Homo sapiens: one gene and its partners. The protein of the gene in region 2 interacts with the protein of the main gene of each other region in a biochemical or structural test. Each region holds a gene or a part of one and is shown on either strand. Other genes may lie near its edges.

Evidence for each region. The genes of interacting proteins can lie anywhere in the genome.
Region 1: the proteins of FCN1 (region 2) and ELN form a complex in vitro, tested with the Homo sapiens proteins (one study listed by BioGRID).
Region 3: the proteins of FCN1 (region 2) and DMBT1 form a complex in vitro, tested with the Homo sapiens proteins (one study listed by IntAct).

What each region holds. Positions count from the first base shown.
Region 1 is NC_000007.14:74,023,977-74,031,172, reverse strand, and holds the start of ELN (elastin isoform a precursor), read right to left. Parts: upstream 3,001-7,196; 5' UTR 2,986-3,000; coding exon 2,904-2,985; intron 1-2,903. UniProt on the Homo sapiens protein: Major structural protein of tissues such as aorta and nuchal ligament, which must expand rapidly and recover completely.
Region 2 is NC_000009.12:134,914,909-134,922,605, forward strand, and holds the start of FCN1 (ficolin-1 precursor), read right to left. Parts: upstream 3,005-7,697; 5' UTR 2,964-3,004; coding exon 2,861-2,963; intron 1,554-2,860; coding exon 1,440-1,553; intron 1-1,439.
Region 3 is NC_000010.11:122,563,732-122,570,753, reverse strand, and holds part of DMBT1 (scavenger receptor cysteine-rich domain-containing protein DMBT1 isoform e precursor), read right to left. Parts: intron 4,788-7,022; coding exon 4,758-4,787; intron 593-4,757; coding exon 545-592; intron 1-544.

The sequences.
Region 1 (7,196 bases), on a different chromosome or scaffold from region 2:
AGGGCCATTTGCCTGGGCCCTGGGCTCCAGGTTCAAAGAGCTGGAAGCAGCCTGTTTGGGAGCGAGCCTGGGGCCAGCCGATCTTGGCAGGGGGCTTTGCCAAACCAAAGTCCAGGGGGCTGGCTTGGGGAGCAGATAAGACCACACGAAGCTGTTTGTTGTTTGCATGCAGAAGGCTGCCAAGGGTTTTCAAAAACAAGCTGTCCTCCACTGGGTGACTGTGTCCCCTCCCACACAGGGCACATTTGCCCTCATGCCGGGGCCTCGGCAGACACACAGAGCGGGATCGACCTCTAAACCAGTGCTTCTTGGCCCTGGCGACCCCACCGTCACCTGGGAAGCCTGAAAAGTCTGTGTCCAGGTCCCTCTCCAACCAAAGCAAGCAGGGATTCTTGGGTGGGAAGTCTAATAGATAGCCAGGTTGAAAACCCCTGTTCCTACTTAAGGACGGAAAACAATAATTAAAAAAATATTTAAAAAGAGGCAGTGGCTCATGCCTGTAATCCAAGCACTTTGGGAGGCGGAGGTGGGAGGATCACTTGAGCCCAGGAATTCAGACCAGCCTGGACAACACAGCGAGACCCTGTCTCAATTTAAAAAAAATAAAAAAGGTAAAAAAATAAAAATAAAAAAGGAAAATAAAAGAAAAGGAAACCTCTGTTCCAAACCATCTTCAGTTCTGAAATCAGGAAAAAAAAAAAAAAAAATCCCTGATACTATTTCTGGGGGATGGGGAAGAATTATCCCTGGGTTAATTTCTCATGCTCACTTTTGAAACAGCCTGGGAGCTGTGCGGCTTGTCCCCTCCTCCTGCTCCCCCACCCCCGCAACAGGGTTCCTTCCTTGGAGCCGCTGAACTTGCATAAGTGACACCCTCCTCCTTGAGGGAGAAGCCAGGCTCCCCCAGGACAGCCAGGTGAGTGGCAGTGAGCATGTGACTGAGCGCTCCACTCCCTGTGTTGGCTCCCCGACCTCTGCAGACTTCAGTAGCACTTCTGTGCAAAACCCCACACGAGCTCATCAGTTCACACACCCCTTATTTGGACCTAGCAAGTCCAGCCACCTGGGACAGAGCTGAGATTGATCTCTGCAAAGTGTGAGGCCAGCTGGGCGTTTAGCGGTGTCACTGAGGACACAAGGAGAGAGCTGATTCTGCCTAGGGCATGCCTGCTTTAAGGACTCAGCCCCAAGCCTTCCCCTCCCCAAATGTTGCCTGCTAGCTCACTCCTAACCCCCTTGCCCCTTGACCTGGGGCAGAGAGCTGGCTGATACTAACCCCCGGGGACTGCCTTAGCCTGCCGGAGCCTCAGCTTCCTTGTTTGTCAAGTGATGATAATAATTTCTAATTCTCAAGGTTCCTTGATGATGAACTGCCACCCTATAGGTGGTGGCCCCATCTGGGAAGAAGGGTGGCTGGGTGTTTGGGGGCTACACCTGGGGAGGAGGCTGAGACGGACCCGGGGCTGCTGCTTTCAGGCCCTGGCTCGTTGCCCCTGCTGGGGCCCGCCTGTGGGTACCCATGTCCCTTGGCCTCATCCAGGTCCAGCAGCGGACCCTGCACAGGAAGCTGTTCAATCTCACGGAAACAGCTGCAGCTCCTGCCCAGGCCCTTGACTCCACCCCGTGGCCCTCCCGCCCCCCACTCAGCGTTTGGTTCTCATGGCAAGGAGGACTCCCGAGGAAACCAGACTCCACCCAGACCCCCCTACCAAATGCCCTCCTTTTTCCCATGCCCGGGAGCCTCTTCTGTCCTCCCCCGTTGGCCGCGGCATAGCAGCCCCACAGGGCACACCCTCAAACCCCATAACCAACTGTGCCTGGGTTGGGGCACATAGCAGATGGCCCAGCAGTGCCCCAGGATCCACTCCAGCCTCTGTCTCAGCCACACTGCCTCTGCCAGGAGACAGACACCTTCTCCAGCCCGCCTTTCCATGCTTGCGTGCCACATCGCACACACATTCACACACACAGATGTACACACTCCATAACACACACAGTGACAGTCCACACCAGTGTCACACCTGGATGCCAGATCGCCCATGTCTACATGTGTACATGTCTACATGTCTGTCAGGTGGCAGACTTTTGCACACACTAAGGAGCAGCTTCATATACCTCCTCCAAACATACGCATACACCTGCCTAAGGATGAACCTGTGAGCAGACATATGTACCCCTCCAGAAATCCCTTTCCCTGTTCAGTGACACAGCCGGGCATCTGAACACATGCACACCTGTGCATGCACACATACACACACGAGCACACAGCACGCTCATTCCTGTGTGCATGCACACACACACACACACACAAATGCATACCAGGAGTCCCTGCCTGCCTCAGCAGGGAGAACACAGCAGCAGCTTCCCAACCTGCAAACCCATCCTCAGCGGAGCCCTGACCTTCCTGACGGGGGGATCCCGGCTTCCCAGGGGTCAAGGAACCTGCTGAGGTCACACAGCTCACTGCGGTTGAGCTGGTATCAAGCCCAGGTTCCCTGTCCCCAGGGCTGGTGTGCACCCCAGCTGTGTCCACAGGTGTGCAGACTGTGGTGTCTCCAGACCCAGGGGTTCCCGCTGGGCCCTCCCCCAGGATGCTCTGATCCCCCTACAGGGCGGGCACCCGGGCACCTGAGCAGGGGCCCCCTCAGCCCTCGCAGGGCAGCAAAGCCTGGATGCTGGGCTGGGACTATTCTGAGTCGAGGGTGTCTCTTTGACAGGTTCCTCCTGGGCACGGGGCTGGCTCCTGGGAGGGGCAGTTCCGAGGACCCAGTGGCTGAGGGGCTCCCACCTGGGACCCCTTGCAGTTCCCAGGGACGAAGGTCTCCCCCTTGAGCGTCTAGTCACCTGGCCCAAAGGGCCCGCAGCTGTGGGCAGCGCTGGGGACAGGGGCGAGGGGTCCTTACCTCCAGGCCGAGAGGGGTGGAGGATGGACAGCAGGAGCAGGAGGACTCCGGGCCGCGGGGCCGCCGCCGTCAGACCCGCCATCTCGGGGAGAAATGCCCCAGCCCGCTCTCCGCACCTCGTTTTATCCCCAAAGCCTAATTGTTGCCTCGTCGGCTGTGAGGGAAAGAGGGAGGGAGAGAGGGCGGGCGGGAGGGCGGGAGAGGGGGGAGGCCTGGGGGAGGGGGCCGCGGGGAGGGGACAATTACGAAAGGCCCGGCTCACAAGCCTCCCAGGCCCGGGCTGCTGGACTGCGAGCTTTTTTCCTTGACACACACACGCACACACATGCACACAAGCACACACTCACACACACACACTTTCCCCCATCTCTTTCCCGCTTTCCCTCTGCGACTGTTCTTTCGCTGCTGGCCCTGTTCCCGCCAGAAAGAGCGAGGGGGGCCTCTGCCAGGACAGCCCTCGGGAGAGGAAGCAGAAGGGAGGGCCTGGCGGCCAGGCCAAAAATCCCAGCCCCAGCCAAGGCCCGAGTGGCCAGGCCCCCGCCCCTCCGGCTGGGCCCCGGGCCCAGTGTGAGGATACGGGCCAGCTGTCCCGCGCCTCAGCCCCCACCCCGGCCCTCCAGACTCCCCAACACCCCCAGGTCTGGCTAGAGACAGGTTCTGCCCAAAGCTGGGGAGGGGAGGCATTGGGCAGGTCTGGGGGTTTGGGGGGTGCGATGTCTACAGAGGCCGGGGGGCTGCAGGTTGAATGGCCTGGAAGGTAGGCCCGGGTTGGTATTGCTCTGGGAGGGATCTGGGGGGAAGGTAGGGGACCCTGGACAGGGCTGCATTCTGCAGGGGCCAAGGTCTCTGCCTAGCGCCTGAAGCTGGGGAGGAGGTGTTGGGTGGGTCTGGGGTGGATGCCTGCAGATGCCAGGGGGTTAGAGGCAGGGGAATGGCTTGGGAGTTAAGGCCATGTTGGTGCTGTCCCCAGGGGCATCTGGAGCACATGGAGGATCCCGACACACAGGGTTCTATTCTGCATGGGTCAAGGTCACAGCCCTATACCCAGCCCCATGCAGGCCGCAGGGTCTGGTAAAAATCAGGCTGGATCCCCAGGTGCCCTGTGGGGGAACAGGGAGGTGGGAGCCCCCCGCAGACTGACAGGCAGCCCAGCTTCCCATTATCACTGGGTCACCTCCCATCCCCACGCTGAGCACAGCTAGCGCCCACACCAGTCTGGGAGCTTCTCGACTGCTGTTCTCCCGGCCCCTCTGGGAAGGCTGACATTCCGCTGGTGGCCAGGAGGGGGCGGCCTGCACTGAAACAGCTGGGACCACGTTCCTGGAGAACTCTGCATTTCTGCCCCCAGGACTGAGCTGGACGGGGACCCTGGGGGATTTTGGGGGTTGGAGTGTGGGATGGAACAGGGGAGGGTCGTGTCCCCCACCCCTCACTTCCCACTACTGCTAGAGGAGAAGAAATGTGAGACCTAGAGAATAGGAGAGGGAAACTTGTTCCTTGTCCTAGGTCACAGCCAGTCAGGGAACAGCATGGAAGCCACACGCCCTGTGGGCTTTTCCCTGCACCACGATGGCTCCGAGGGATGAGTTAAAGACCCCTTGTGGAGGCAGGAGCACTGTGGCAGTCTGGAGTGCCAGCAGGGGTGGCTCAGCGTGGAAAGGTCAAATGCAGGCATTGGTCAAAGGCAGGTATTGGTGGACCTAGAAGTAAATTTCTGGCTCTAGCCTTTCTGGTAGGAAAACCTCTCCACAGAGCATCAGTTTCCTTATCTGTCTACAGGTGATCAGTATTCCTAGCTAAGAGATTATTGCAAAGACAAATACAACGTGGTCTTGTATTTCTGCTAGATCAAAAATGCTCTGTGTTCAGCTGGTGCTAGGACTGGTGTCAATACCACAGTTGCCGTCACTCGCTCTGCAAGTACTCTGCTTCTAGGACAGCTATCAGGCTTTGGTCTATACGGGGCCACCCCAGGACCCTGGACAAACCCTTCCTTTTCCCTGGGTCTTTGGAGGGAGCAGCTCTGGAATTTTGGAAGGTAGGGGCATGCTGGGAGAATTGTCTTGAAGATGTACGCACACAGCCAGTGTACAGCTCTTACTTACGGTGTGTGTTTATTTGGGGGTGCTTTGAGGGTAGCTGATGGAGATTATGCTGGGGTGAAAGCCCCCCCAAGCCACCCTTTGTTGGTGGGGTTAGGGGCTGCTCAGGGGCAGGGTCTGAAGCTCGATGCCCAGGATGTGCCTGCTGCAGGGGAGGGGAAGTCAATGGTATATCTGCGTGCCTCCGCCTGCCTGGGAAGGAGGAAGGCAGGGGCTACTGTGGGGAGCTGGACCCCTCTCTTCTCGAGGCAGTGACACGGGCAGGAACCAGCTTTCAGACTTGCAAACCGCAGTCTGCACAGAGTCTTTATTAATTCCAGGACGGGGAGAGAGTCCGGAGCCAGGGGGAGAGAGTTTGCAGTGGGGGGATCCAGGAGGGGTGTGGAGGGGCACTCACAGGAATAGACTTGAGGTGGCTGGAACAGACCTCTCCCCTGAGGCCGGGGGCCCTGTGTCCTGCCCCCAGCCTGTGCGCTGCTTCTGCTTAGCAGCCTCTGCTCATTGCAGGAGCTCCACGAACATAACATGCAACAAGATTGCAAAAGGGGGCCTCAATTCACAATCAAATCCATTGCACTGAATATCCATGCCGTGTAGTCTGATGCATAAGATACATAATGTAAGAACTAGAGATGACAGTCATCGGCCACCATCCATTCATTCATTCATTTACTTGTTCATTCAAGACCCCATCAGTACTCAAATGCTTAGTGTCACCTCCTTGCCTAGCTGTATGACTAAATAAGGTCATACATGCAGAATTGCCCACAGAGGGCTACCGGGTGCACCTGGCTGCCTGGTGATCGTTGGTCTTGCCGTTATCATTGACAAGCCTTTCCCGCTTGTTGCCTGGCTCAGTGCCACCAAGGGGCAACCAGATGAGTCACCCACAGGGCATCTCTATCTTCCAGCTCCTCTGGGTGCACCCATTTTGGTAGGACAGAGTTCCCAGTCTCTGGATGGCTCTGAGAACATCGTGCTTTGCTCAGACACCCTCCGTCGCTATCCAGACAAAGTTCAGATTTTTTTTTTGAGACGGAGTCTCGTTCTGTCACCCAGGCTGGAGTGCAGTGGCGTGATCTCCGCTCACTAAAATTTCTGCCTCCCAGGTTCAAGCAATTCTCCTGCCTCAGCCCCCGAGTAGCTGGGATTACAGGCATCCGCCACCACTGCCAGCTAATTTTTGTATTTTTAGTAAAGACCGGATTTCACCATGTTGGCCAGGCTGGTCTCAAACTCCTGAGCTCAGGTGATCCGCCCGCCTCGGCCTCCCAAAATGCTGGGATTACAGGTGTGAGCTACCGCATCCAGCCCCTCCTATGATCTTAAATTTACTAGTAGCCATATGAAATAAAAGAAAACATAAGTAAAACTATTCTTAGTAATATATTTAACACAACATATCTAAAGTATAATCCTTTCAACATCCAATCAAAATAAAAGTTATTGAGATATCTTGCATTCTTTTTTGTACCAGGTCTTAAAACTGGTGTGTATTTTGCATCGAGGGTACGTCTCAATCTGGACTTGTCACATTTCAAGTGCTCCATTAGCCACATGTGGCCAGCAGCTGCCACCGGGGACAGCACTGGTTTAGATCATAAAGGACTGGTGAGATGAGCTAGCCTTAGTTCTTTTTTGGTGGTTTGTTTTCTTTTTTGAGAGGGAGTCTTTCTCTGTCACCCAGGCTGGAGTGCAGTGGCACGATCTTGGCTCACTGCAACCTCCGCCTCCCGGGTTCAAGCAATTCTCCTGCCTCAGCCTCCTGAGTAGCTGGGATTACAGGCACGCGCCACCACGCCTGGCTAATTTTTGTATTTTTAGTAGAGACGGGGTTTCTCCGTTTTGGCCAGGCTGATCTTGAACTCCTGACCTCAGGTGATCCTCCCGCCTCGACTTCCCTAAGTGCTGGGATTACAGGCGTGAACCACCATGCCCAGCCAGAGCTAGCCTTAGTTCTGATGCGCTTGGAAGGGAATCTGAATCCTGCTATGCAGAGGTTCAAAATGGGACGGGGCTTGAGGACAGGGGAGAGGGACAGAGAAGGAAGGATGTCCTTGGAGGCTGGCAAAGGGCACCCGTGACAAGCAGCCCCAAAGGAGTGGCCCTGCCCTCGTGCTGGTGACTGAGCCAGAGAGGGCGGCTACCTCCTGTGGGGTGCCCGGCAGCATCGGCCCAGAGCCAGCACCTC
Region 2 (7,697 bases):
CTGCCTTGAACCCCTTCTGGTTCCAGGAGCTCTCAGAATTGCTAGCCATGGATTTAGCCTGGGGGTGACTGCAGATGGAGGTGAGGGATTGAGGGAGGGGCCTGCACCCCACCTTGGGCTCAAGGCAAGGTGCACCTTGCTCCTGTTTGTGCCTTGGGAGCAACCTGGGTTTCACACTCTGTTGACCATAAGCCTGGACCCAAGTCACCCACACAGAGCTCTACTGCCTAGCAAGGGACCAGGTTCTGGAACAAAGAATGCGTCCTCAGAGAGCCTCATCCTACCACGTCCCCACACGGAGAGGGTGGGCGCCACGTGCAGCCGCTGCTGCCAGGGAGGATCCGGTTCCACCGTGCGCCTGAGCTCCTGGGGTGTCACACAGCGCTCCACGTGGTTCTGGCCAGAAAGGTGACCCTCCCGTCCCCGATGCCAGCCAAGAGGCAGCCCCCAGCCCGCTCGCTGACCCCAGTGGCTGGGGAGAGTGTATGGGGGCTGGTTCTTGCTTTAGGGTATATTAGCCAGCCATGCCCACTGGTAGAAGCCTGGTTCAAGGGAAGTCTGAGCCAGACTTGATTCTTCTCCTGCCAGGGAAGGTCTTCCTCCCCAGTGTTCCCTCAGCAGGGGATCGGGACCGCACTCTCAGGTCCAGCCTGCGGAGTGGGCACAGAGGACCTGGCCCCGGACACCCACACGGAAGCCTAGACACGTCAGTGAAAGTCCAAGTCATAGGGACATTTGAGCTTGTCCCATCTACACTGGGACATCCCCACCAAGTGCTCCGCAGGCATCATCTTGAATGCGTCCAGGCATGGGGAGCTCACCCCCTAAGGCAGCGCCCTTTCTGAGTTTTTGTGCACGTCTGCCTTATGCCATGCTTAGGGGGACCCAAAACCACCCAAGGCAGGTGCCTGCTGTTCATTCTCCCATGTTCCCTGCAAATCCACATGCAGAGCTCAGGGCTCAGGATTCGGGTGCCCTCTGTGCCCTGAAGTAGACCAGTCCAAGTCCCAGCCCCACTCCTTACTGGTTTGTCAAGTAGGAAAGCCTGTGACCTCTTTGAGTCTCAGTTTTCCCATATGAGGCAGGTGCAGAAGAAAGCGGTCACCTCAATTTTCAGGTGAGAAGGTGGAGGGACACAGAGCTTAGAAGTCGTGCCAGTAGCTGAGCAAAGCTGGTATTGGATCAAGGACTAGGAGACAGAGCTACAGAAGCATGTCCAAATGTGAGCTCATGAAATAGTTAGGAAAGACCCTCCCTCCATTTCAGAACCCTGTTGGGCCCTGGGAGTCAGCTCTGTTCCTGGCTCTAGCAGGGGCCTGACCCAGGCTCTTGATCTAGGAACCACGGTGGGGGTGTTGCCCAACTCTGCATCCAGTTTCATAAAGAGCAAGAGCCAGTGCCCCTGCCATGCCTGGCCTCCCCACCCGGCCCGCACCTACCTCTCTCTCCAATGACACCTGCCTCTCCCTTTGGCCCTGGGGCCCCGGGCAGCCCCGGGCAGCCTCGGAGAATGGTGAGCTTGTCAGAGCCCTCCAGGCCCACCACCTTCACCTCTGCAGAGAAACACAGGTGCCCACTCAGTGCCTGGCCCAACAGTGGCTGGGAAGTGAGGTTTTCTGCTCTGCTGGGGCCTTGGTCTGTCCTCACCCCTCAGGCACTGGTGAGGCGGAGATGTGATGGGGGGCAGAGCTCTGGCTTTGGAGGCCACCCCGACCTAGGGGAGCCCCATCTCCTCAGTGCTGTGTGTCCTGCAGCAAGTAACTTAACTCCTCTGAGCTTTGTGCCCTGGGCTGCCAAGCGGGGATAATAACAAGGTTGCGGCCAGGATTTGGTTAAAGAATGTGCATTTTAAATCTCTTATTGTAATTTATGGCATTTAGAAAGAGCTTAATAAACAGCGGGCACTTTCAATAACTAATGACAATCAATATTTCTAAGAAACTTGGGGAATTGGGGCTGACAAAGCATTTTCCCTCCCAGACCTTGGGAATGTGGTTGTAGAATTACTGGGCTGGAAGGGGCTTTCTAGGTCCTCTGGAGAGGGGCAGTGTGGGGTCCAAGGACACAGAGCCAGGTGTGGCACAGCTGCAGCCAAACCAAAGTTGTTTACTTCTTTGAAAAAATATTTTTCATTTTGTTCATTACAAAATCTACACGCCCTGCTAAGGGCGCTCTTAGAGACCATGGAACGGAGCAGTGCTCTCACCGGAGACATGGCACTGCCATTTTTGGGGTATTTCCTTTCTGTGTTTCCAGTCCTCCTTCCACTAGAGCAGGCTGTAATTTACTATTTATGTTTCCTTCATAAATATGTTATCAGCCAGGGGCACCAGGCCGTCCTTAGGAGCAGTCTCTTGCTGAGCGTCACAGAACCACCTGCTCCTGAATCAGTGAGGGAAACACCTTACCACCGTTCAAACCCTTGTCCCTATCAACTGATTCCGACTCTCTTGGAGGAGAGCCAGAAATCTGCCTTTTTAACAAACCCCCCAAGTCCGTGTGGCAGCCACCGTATTAGAGGGTCTTAGAGTGCCTCCCTGGTAAGCCCGTAAGAAGATAAAGTCAACAGTATTTTCTTCCTTCTCAGTGACAGATTCCAGACCCACCTATGAAGCTCCAATGGGCAAATCCTGGGCTTTCGAGGCAGACAGACCTGGTGACATCCCTCCCCTATCCCTCCATGACCCTGGGCAATGCCTCAGCTGCCCTGAGCCTCCATGTCCTTGCCTGAGGATAAAACAGATCTGTTGGGCATCTTCACAGGAAGATGTGCATAAAAGGTTTTGCCTGGGACACCCGAGTGTCAGTGAGTGGGGTTGTTACCAGCTTTTAGGGACCAGAAAACCCAGGTCTGTCTCACCTGGACATGTGTCCGCAGCCTGGGCAGGCAGGTTCTTGATATGCAGGAACAAGACTAGCAGGACAGCGAGCCCCCGGGCCATGGTGGCTCCACTCAGCTCCATGCTCTCTGGCCTTTGACTCTGAAGAGTCCCCCAGCTCTAACAGGGCAGAGGAAACCAGCTCTCGCCTTGTGCCACAGTTTCTCAACTCCCTGGGGGACACCCACTTCCTATGGGCTGCTTAGTTGCACCAACAGGAGGTATGAGGTCATCTCAAAGGATGTTTCCTTCCACTAGGCTCCAGCAAGATGCCCACCCCATTGGGCTCTCTTCCCCCAGCAAAGACACCCTGCTCCCAGTCCAGAGAGCTCCTGAGACTCCTCTGCTGGAAAGCATCGGCTTTGCTTGTGGCTTAAGGAGAACACAGCCCCCACACCCCCTTTCCATTCCCCAGCTGTCCCCAAGCAATACTCGGAAACCTTGACCTTAACCTTGGGGGATAAGGAAGGTTTTGCTGAAGACGCTTCCTTGCCTCATCTGTTCCCAGAAAATTCAGGGTTTGTCCGTCATCAGGCACTTATCATGGATGGAGAGGAAAAAAATGTTGAGCACTTGTTATGTCCCAAATACTATTTCCATCATATCATCTTGCACCAGCCCCATTCGGTGGAGTAAATTATTTGAAAGTTACAGCTGGAGAAATTGAAGTCACTCCACTAGTAAGAGCCAGGCATTGGACTCAATTCTGTCTAACGCCTTGTAGATCACTGGGATTGCTCATTTCACCTGAAGGTGGGGATGCCTCTTGTTCCCCCAAATCCCTGAGGCCATGTTCCTACTCCGCATCTCGTGCTGTGAATCATGCTTAGCCAGGCCACGCTGTGGACACTTTGTGCGGGATTTTTAGAACGTATAGAAATAGTCACTAACGAGAGTCAGATGGTAGCAGGACTAAGGAGCAGGGAGAGGTGTTGTTTTGTGGTTTGCAACTTCTCTGAGCCAGCGTGTGTAGACTGGGTTTCCAAACTCAAGGGCTCCCCAGGTGGGAGAGAAGTGGAGGGGCGGCCCAGGGGTGGGGGATCCAGGAGACACAGGACCTTGTGTCCAGGCTCTCTGGGCACCACAACGACTCTCGACTGTGTGTGTTTGTGTGTGTTGGCTCCAGCCTGTTGAGAGACAACGGCAGGAGGCTTCATTGCCTCAGACACCGCTTAGTGTCCCTGAGCTACTGGCCCAGGCGGGAGAGGTCTGGGTGTCAGTGGTGCGGCCTCCTTTCTTGGAGAGGATCCAATTCAGGAGCAGCACTCACCTGGGATTGGGTCAGAACAGGGAGAAAGCCAGCAGGTCTGTGCCCCTCAATTCCATTTGCCAGCTGCCCCCTGGGTGTGAGGGGACCTCCTCTTCCTTGCAACATCAATAGGTTTATTTCAGGTGAGAAGTCAACACCACCTTCAGATATCAAGTCAATGTTCCCAAGAGTATGAAAGAATGCAAGATTCTGGCAAGTTAAAATATCTTAACATTGGATCAACAAAAGTCATTTGATTCCTGGCAATGGCAGTTTAGGTATTTGGGGGCATCCTATTAAGGACAAACAGACAAAACCTTTAAAAAGAGATTTGCTCGAAGGCACCGTCAAGCTAGCTATGTAGTAAAGGATTACTTTGCCAAGCTCTCAGGAGCCACAGAAATCTTAGAGAAGTGAAACTAGTAGTGGGGACCTCTTTTTGCACAGGGATTTGCCAATCTCCAAAAGAGAGGTGAGAAGTTGGGCAGTGATTTCACCATCTTGCAGAGCTGAAGGTCAAAGACTGGGGCCTACGGCCTGCCAAAGGTATGGGTTTGGGGTTGGCTTTCAGAAGGGCTGCACCCTAGCAATAGGATGAGTGAGCAACAACCAACATTCACAAGGGCTGCAAACTGGTTTTGAGACATCTAAGTGTCCCAGGAAAGGAATCTCAACTCCTGGAATTATTGCTCATGCCCCCAGGCTCCTTGCTGAAAGAAACAAAAATCTTCTCTGAAGGAGAATGACATCATCCCAGGTCATTATTTCTGCAAAGTGTTTTATTTTTTTCAAATGAAATGTTAAAACACAATCAACGATAACCAGGCTCATGGGAATAAAAGACAATGTGTATAAGGACCAACAGAAACAACAGAATATAGAAAGAGGTCTTTGGAAGCTGTGGATACAGAAGTTACAACATAATTAACAGGAAAAATGGAAAACCATCCTCAGAGACTGAGAACAAATAAGGATGCTTGTCATCACCACTGTGGTCAACATTGTATTGCATGTCACTGTCCAGTGCAGTAGGCAAGAGAACAAAACCATAAAAAGATTGGAAAGGCAGACACAAAGTTGTTATTTTCAGAAGACATGATTGAGGATGTAGAAAATTCTAGAGTTTCTACAGATAAACTAGCAGAATAAAAAGTTTAGCAAAAATCAATTGTGCTTCTAAAAACTAGCCTCAAAGAATTTAAAAATGAAATTTAAAAAATTTGCATCAGCAACACCAAATTCAAATAACTGTGAATAAGTCTAACAACATCCATGCTGGTCTTCTGTGTACAAAACTATCAAATAGGAACAGAAAGACCTAAAAGAAGATTAAAATAATTAGAAGGATATTCTATATGTGTGGATTAGAATACCAAATATAGGAAAAACATTCATCTTCTCTTAATTTATCTAAATATCCACTGTATTATCAATTAAACTACCATTTTCTGTGACAATTGACATGGTGAATTTAAAATTTATATAAAGGGCCGGGTGCAGTGGCTCACACCTGTAATCCCATCACTTTAGGAGGCTGAGACAGGTAGATTACTTGAGGTCAGGAATTCAAGACCAGCCTGGCCAACATGGTAAAACCCTGTCTCTACTAAAAATACAAAAATTAGCTAGGCATGATGGTGGGCACCTGTAAACCCAGCTACTTAGGAGGCTGAGACAGGAGAATTGCTTGAACCCAGGAGGCGGAGGTTGCAGTGAGCCAAGATCGAGCCACTGTACTCCAGCCTGGACGACAGAGTGAGATTCCATCTCAAAAAATATATAATATATATATTTAGCAGGGTGTGGTGGTACATGCCTGTAGTCCCAGCTACTCAGGAGGCTGAGGTGGGAGAATTGCTTGAACCCGGGAGGTGGAGGTTGCAGTGAGCCGAGATTGCACCACTGCACTCCAGCCTGGGCAACAGAGTGAAACTCTGTCTAAATAAATAAACAAATAAATAAATAAATAAATAAAATTTATATAAAGGCAAGAGGCTGATAGCCATGCTATTCTTGAGCAAGAAAAAACAAGGGTGAGTTGCTTGAAGTGACACCAGCAGTCATTATCAAGCGATAGTGATGGAGACAGTGTGGGGCTGGCTTAGGCGTACACAGCAAACCTAGGGAAGTGAGTAGGGAGTGCAGAAGCAAATCCAGGCACATACGGACCCTAGATTTATGACATGGTGGCTCTAAAGAGCAATAGTGAAAGAATAAACTTTCAATGAGTGGCACAAACTACTGGAGAGTCATATGGAAAAACAAGAAGTTACACTTGACTTTTATCAGATGAAAAAAAAATCCACATCAGGAGAAGGGTAGACCCAAATGTGAGAGGGAAAACAGCAGTTTTAGATCATATTATAAGATCTCCAATAGCCTTGCAGTTATTTTAAATAAGATGGAAAACCACAAACCATAAAGGACAAGTGGAAAAATTGATCATGAAAATAGTATTATTTCTTTTTCAAAATACACCACCGTGGGAGGGAAAAGACGAGCCAGGGTGAGGGAAGAGAGGTTTCAACACACAGAAGTGACAAAAGGCTTGTATCCAGAATAAAGGGTTTCTGTAAATCAACGATGTTGTAGAAAGTGGGAAAGTGACTTCAACAAACGCTTATAAAAGATAATATTTAATAGATGATGGAAGTATGAAAACATGCTCAACTTCATAACTAATCCAAGAAATGAAAACTTAAATCTCATGAGATGACTGCAGACACTAAAATTTTTCTAAACAGCCAACTCTGCAAGGTTTTGGTGAAGAAGTGTCAGAAACCTTGGTACAAGCACTTCGGAAAACTGGCAGTATTCCCAACAATTCCCTACGACCAGCATATTCCATAACCAGCGATGTTCAGCTCAGTTCTACTCAACAGAGAGGTGTGCCCAGCTGGAAAGAAGACACGTGTGAAAATGTCCAGCCCCACGCCGGAAACAACCCAAACGTCCATCCGCAGCAGAATGGGGCCGTCAGCTGAGGTTCGTTCATACTGGAGCATCCTGTAGACCCATAAAATGATCGGATTCCAGCTTCACGCAAAAGCTTTGTTGAAATCCGCAAGCACACGGAGCATCCAGGGCGCCAGCACTAAGGCATGCGAACTGTTCATTTGCATCTGTACAGAGTTTGAAAGTGGGCAAAACTGAACAGCAGTGTGAAGGAATGCATGCTCGGTGGCAACGTGGAGAAAAAGGCCCAGACCATGCCAGTGAGATGACCGCTCCCTTAGCAGGGGCCAGTGAGACGACCGCTCCCTTAGGAGGGGGAGCCCTTAGGCCTGGAAGGGGCACGGGGGGCTGGAGATGGGTTTTGGCTTCATTGGGTGATGCAGGTTTAGTTTATGCACTCTGGTGAATGGGTGTTAAATTTCACTTAAAAGAGCAAGCTTAAATAAACTATTTAAGTAAAATAAATAGAACACATAAGGGTCACCATCGTCCTGTATTGCTCCCACCACAAGCTATAGCCCAGCTGTCTCTGGGAGGTTTGGGGATGTTGAATGCCTGCTGGTTCACTTCCCTGTTGCAGCTCAGGCTTCTGGGAGGTTGAGCAACCCCTAGCC
Region 3 (7,022 bases), on a different chromosome or scaffold from region 2:
TGTGCCAATCACTGTGTTACCGTACTGGCTCCAGGCTGGGCTAAGATGCCGCACAAGCATCCTTTGCTCTACTTACCCTCCCCCAACCTCTTCTGCTGCCACAGCCTCTATTCAACAAGTCACACAGTCTATTCACAGCCCCATCCTAGTCACAAGATTGAATGTCAAAAGATATCTGGCTGTTTCTATAGCTAAAACACACCCTCAAATGACAAATATTCACCATCACTGAAATATTCCCGAGAAGGTGGTTCAACAAGAAAGAAAGATGGTTTTGAAAGAAAACCAACCATTCCAGAATGCAAAACTAAACCATCACAAAGTGGCTGCATGGAGGACCATGCCCCCTTGGGGAGCCCAGTCTCACTTGGTAGTTGGATTATCAAGGGCACACCCCAGGCATTGTAGCCTGGGTTCAGTCAGCCCAAACACTGAATGCCAGAGTTGCTAGAAGTATGGCTTCTGCATCTCTTCTGGATCAGAGATGAACCTAGGGGTGCAGTGGGGTAATGAGCCCACAGGGTTCCCCCATAATAGACCTTACCTTCTGCTACAGTTGGATCCAAGGGCACCTCCGAGGGAATCAGTGAAGCTGCGAGGTGGAAAAGGAAGAGCTCATTGATGGTAGCCCTTGCTTGGGGAGGGCTGGTCCCTGGCTTCCTCAGCTCTCAAGCAAGAACTGGAAGCCAGGGCCTAAGGGCACCCTCCATTGCTAAAAGCCAACTATGTGCCAATCGCTCCATCACTGAAATGGCCCCAGGCTGGGCTAGGATGCCACACCAGCATCCTTTGCTCCTGTTACCCTCCCCACACCTCCTCTGCTGCCACGACCTGTATTCAAAAAATCACCAAGTCCACTCATAGCCCCATCCTAGTCACAAGATCCAATGTCAATGACAACTGGCTGTATCTATAGCTAAAACACACCCTCAAATGACAAACATTCACCATCACTGATATACTCCTGATAAGATGGTTCAACTAGAAAGAAAGGTGGTTTCGAAAGAATACCAACCTTTTCAGAATGCCGAAATAAATCACTCACAAAGTGGCTGCATGGAGGACCATGTCCCCTTGGGGAGTCCAGTCCCACTTGCTGGTTGGATTATCAAGGGTACATCCCATGCATGGTGGCATGGGCTCAGTCCAGTCCATACGGCAAATGCCAGAGTTGCTCTAGAAGTGAACATTCTAACCACAAACTCCTCTTTGGGGAACACGCCATGGGACAGTGTCCTTGAAGGTTTCTTTGGGAACTAAAGGACCCCTTGGTGTCCACACACTTCCTGGCACTACGCAAACAAAGGAAATCAACACTGGGATTTGCTGGGTTGGGTCCAGGAGAAGTTCTCTTTTCCATTGAGGATATTAAGTAGCTTTTATTTGTCATTTAATTCCAAATAAAGAGAATGCTTTGGTTCACTCCTCAATTTGATGTTGGTATACATTTATGTTTTAAGGACCAGCAGTTCCTCCATCCTCGTCAGCTTTTAAAGGAGGAGAAACTGCCACTTAGGAAGATATATATTTGGTATCCCAGGCCGGGGGTGGTCGTGATGCTGCTCATCAAAACCACTCCATGAGGTGATTGCATCAGCAGGCTCTGGGGGGTGAGACTGAAGCCTGCCTCCACTATATCCAGCTTTAGAAGGACTGGCCGATGATCCCTTGACCTTCATTGTCTATGAAAAGGGCCAGTACCACCTGCCCTCCAATATCAATTAAGACATGACTTACTGCAAAGCAGGTAAGCTGTAGAGCACACACATATGTACGCACACATACTTATGTGTGGTAATATTGACTCAGAGTTGCAGATACACAGAGCAAGGTGATATCCACACTACCTGAGCACATGACACCAGCATCTTCCCTGTGGCCACATTCGTGGTTGTACCATCCGCTGTGGGGACAGCTTGACAGGTAGGACTCCCTTCCCAAGCAATGCAAGTCACCCAAGGGAATGTTACCCAAGCCCTGACCAAAGTGGGCCCCGCCCAGGGCTGACATGGAATAGCCACAGCCGAGCTGCCTGCAGACAACATCTGCATCCTGGGCGTCCCAGCTGTCATCACACATAGTGCCCCATTAGCCTTGGTACAGGACCTCCACCCGGCCCTGACACCGGTCACCTCCATTCACCAGCCTCAGAGGCAGACCTGCAGTGACACAGCCAGAAGCTTTTATCTTGGTGCTCTCGGCCCCCTTGACTTGCATCCCTACCCTCCTCACTCCTCCTTCTTCCTCTCACCACCCTGCTTATTTACAATCTTTCTCCCAGCAGGATCTTAAGTATCCTTGTTCTTCCATGTTCTCTCTTTGCCCTCTTCTCATTCTGTATTTTCCCCCTGGAGAACCTCATGTACTCTGAGAACTTTCCAGAAGACCCCCAAATCCACCTCTCTGGTTCTGACTCAGCCCTGACAGCCCAGCCCTGAGCTCTAGACCAGCATTTTCAGTGGCCTCCTGGCCATCCTACCCCCCACATCATCCCAAACTCAACACAGCCTCTTCCCTCCGTTTGAATTAAGGATGTCATCATGCTCCATATTAACCATGCTGGGAATAAGGGCATCATATTCGACTCCTCCTTCTCCTCACATCCTACATCTAACATCACCAAGGTCATTCCTTCCGTGTCGTTCCCACTGCCATTTCACTGGGATAAGCCTTCATCCCCTTGAACCTGGCCTCCTCCCAGCTGAATCCTCAGTGTCTGCTCTTCCTTTCTCTAGTCCATCCACATTCATTGATTCAATCAGCATCGATGGAGTGCTTACTCTGCACCCATTTCTATACTAAGAGGATTCACTGGTCTCCAGGTGGTTTTCAAGTTTTATCTTTAGAAAGTACAAATATATTCAATTCAATTCCTTGCTCAAAATGCTTCAGTACACTCTCCAGTCCCATCAGGATCAAGTCCAAGAGCAAGCCTCGACCTACTTTTCCAGCCTCCTCTCCTGGGAGGGGCTAATTGAGCCTGCTTCCCACCATGGAGCTGGCCATGCTGGGAAGTCAATAAGCACCATGTTCCTGCCCGACGTGATGCCACTAGACCACCCACTGGGGTAAGCTGTATTGATGGTGTGAGGAAAATAGGTACAGGTCCTGAGGGGTGCAGCCCACCGTCCTGACAGTAGGAGCCAGATCCTGGGTGTGGCTTTTCAATGGTGAGTTTGAGATTATGAGAAACTTGTGGTCACAGAGTGAGAGGCTGGAATGGGATGCAAAGGGAGGGGGCAGGTTGCTTTTCCTCCCAGAGGGAGGAAAGGCCAGCTGGACCATCTTCAGGGTATCCCCAAAGTACATTCTGGACTTCCCATGCTCTGTCCTTCCCCAGTCTCAGGGACATAATCCATGGAGATGCCTGTTCAGACCTGAGGCCTTATTCGGAAGGGCCCCTCTTACGAGCAAAACACCCTACCTTCTATGCCATCTGCAACTCTTCTGGATCAGAGATGAACCTAGAGGTGCAGCAGGGCAATGCGCCCCCTCCTGGTCACCCTGTGAATGGTCCCTCCAGGAGAGTGCTCGGTCTCCCTGCCTCAGCCTCTCCCTTGCTCTGTGTTGGTCAGAAATCTGCCTTTCCCAGGCCATTTCTGGATCTCTCAAGTCATGTCCTGGAAGGGGAGGGACTGACCTCAACAAGGCCAAGGGCCCAGGAGCAGAGTCATCCTAAGTGAACACATGGAAGGCCCTGAAAAATTAAACTTGGGCACAAAGTTCTCTGCACATTCTCACTGGAGAGGCAGGGACATTTAGCCAAAGTCAAAGACCAGGGCAGGGGTAAGAGGAGGCACCCATCCTAGCCTCAAATCTCTGCCCTGCTACTCACCAGACACATGATCTTAGACATAGAAATATTGACAAATTAGCTAACTGTGCCCTGGTTTTCCCATCTGCAAAATGGGTATAATCGTATTACTTACCTCAAAGTGTTCTTGGAAAGATTTCATGATAATAGCACTCACTATGTGCATTAGTTGAGCACTTATTAGGTGCCAGGTGGTATTTTAAGTATTTTTTAAAAATATATCAATTCATTTCATACATGAAAATCATTTTATGCAGGGTATATAACAAGTGCTTGGTAGATGTTAGTTATCTTCAAGATACCTGTCATTATTAGTGAAAAGAAAAGGTAGGCCGGGCGCAGTGGCTCATGCCTGTAACCCCAGCACTTTGGGAGGCCGAGGTGGGTGGATCACGAGGTCAAGAGATCAAGACCATCCTGGCCAACATGGTGAAACCCCATCTCTACTAAAAATACAAAAATTAGCTGGGCGTGGTGGTGCGCACCTGTAGTCCCAGCTACTCTGGAGGCTGAGACAGGAGAATTGCTTGAACCCAGGAGGCGGAGGTTGCAGTGAGCTGAGATTGCACCACTGCACTCCAGTCTGGTGACAGAGCAAGACTCCATCTCAAAAAGAAAAAAGAAAAAGAAAAAAAAAGAAAAGGTACTGACCTTTATTTTCAACTATCTCTCCTCACACCAAACTGAAACTAACCTCATCTGATAAATGACTGAGAGTCAGAGAGCAAGAGGAAGGAGAATGACAGCTGGGATTGGCCGAGTGTGCACTTGAGACATGCCCCAGGTCTTGGCACGCACGTCTCCTGTCCCCCCGGCATTCCTGCATTCGACAAGGCAGGCGTTTGCTCTGTGACCTCAGCTGTGCTCAGCCTCAACTAGCCAACAGTAGCAGAGGAGAACTGGCCAACCCCACCAGGGAAGAGGAGTGAAGAAAAGGTCTTACCGTAGTCTGTAGTCCTTGGGATCCACCCACCTGGAAAGAACACAAATTCGTCTTAGAAACACTGTTTAGAAATGATTTCCTACAAGTCACAGAAATTGGCTTTAGCTTCACCGTACAATCACACCAGAGGGCGCTGTGGCTCAATCTTGGGTTTGTGTGTCCCCGACGTTCTTGCTAAATGAATTCTGCAATAGCGGATTAAAGCAAGTGGATTGGATATGAGGAGCTCAATCATTTTAGATGTAATGAAGCATATGTCTCTTTACTAGGCCCCTAACACTACAGCTTATGGTGACAGGATGTAATCTATGCTTGGAAAGAAGGGCTGGACAAGAGAAGACAGCTTAAGCTCGTTGTCCAGTCTGAAATTTGAGTATAGCTGGCATTGACAACAGCCACTCAGATGACCCCTAAAGAAGAAAATATGTTAATGTCAGATATTCTGTTCCTTCTGACTCATAACCTGAAAACATTTTATTCCATCTTGAAGCAAATGGAAATCTAGAGATCCCTGGATCTTTATATTCAGTGAGGCCAGACAAGGTCCATCGGACTCAACTGTAGCTTTTGAGTTTCTTTTTGAGCAGTTCTAACTATACTCGTGAGTGTTGATATTTAACAACTTTTATATATTTTAGAGGTCTTTCAAAGATCAGAGAGAGTATTTATTCATTTAAAAAAAAGGATAAAACTCATCCTATCTTGTAATCACCATATGGATCCATTAGATCCTTTTATAAATCCAAGATTCATTATTGGCTTCTGATTTTATTTTTCCTATGTCTTGAAGCATTTCACTATTTCATCATCCAAGAAAGTATTGCATCATTATTCATCAATTATTAAATAGTAAGAAAATGATAGAATGGTGAAGTTGCCTAGAAGGAAGATGAACTAGTGAAATAAGTCATAATTCTTCCATGCCCAAAGTATTGTATTATCTTTCAAGAAGATTTTTTTTAAGATTGGAGACACTTTCTTCATAGTCTGTTTTTAGCTTTCATTGAATGCAGTTAAAAATTCAAATTTTTTCATTTTCTACTTGTGATGGCAAAGAGAAGAAAACTGACAAGGGAAGATGTTTCTGCAATAATTAGATGAACCAGAAGAGGAATATAGAGACAAGATATAGCACTCCAGATACTAATAATGGTAGAATTGATTGTACAACAGAAATCTCAGACTATGAGTCTTCAGATGATGATATCCTAGATGAATTTCTCAAATTCAAGAATCCAGGGTCAATGATACAATTCTAAGGACAAAAATAAAATACAGTACTCTTACACACTTCGATAGGGATTTCATCACATGATATTTTGCAACAAGAACTTCAACCATCTTATTTTGCTAAAAAAAAAAAATACATGTGATGGTATTCTTTTGTCTTTTATGATGTTTATATACCAAAATGTATGTGATACAAAAAGGTCTGCTATGTTTAAATTCTTATTAACAATTCCAGCATACTTTCTTTCATTATTCCTTTTCTTTTTACTTCCTGGTAAAAGGAGGATTAAGGCATTTGACAAAATTATCAGATTATTATTTTATTTTTAGAGATAGAGTCTTGCTCTATTGCCCAGGCTAGATTCAAATTCCTGGGTTCAAGCGAGCCTCCTGCCTCCAGCCCTAGAGTAGCTGGAACTACAGGCATGTGTCACCATGCCCGGCTCTTCAGATTCTTTGTAAATGTGGGTCCTGAGAGCAGTGACAGTCACAGTTCAGAGATTTGAATTTCTCTAATGGAACCAACAGGCCAGTGACAGGACTTGCCGTATGTCAGAGAACATCTTCACCTGCCTCAACAGCCTGAATATGAGCTCCATGATGGGCTCCCCCAGCTGCCCTGCTTCATATTGATGGCTTAGGAAGGGGGCCACTGAAACCATGTGGCTATGCATCCCTGAAAATGAAGAAGAAACTCGCAATAGAAACCACAACATTCTTTCAACAGAGATAGCAAACTAGGGAACTCTGTACCAGAACATCCCCACCTCTTTTCTGACATGCCATCCCTGCTCCCACACTCAAGAACGAGCTGATAGATGTGCCTAAGAGAGCCTTCCATTCAAAACTCGGCCATTTAAACACAGTCTACCTGACACCATGCAATTCCCACTGCCAGGTCCCAGGTATCCTGCCTAATCCCATGGCAGTCGAACTCATCCAGCCAGAGCCTTGACAAGGCTCATCCACAGCATGGAACACCACATTGAAGTTGTTCCTGGTTCTGCTGTGTCCACACATTTTGAATAGACCCTT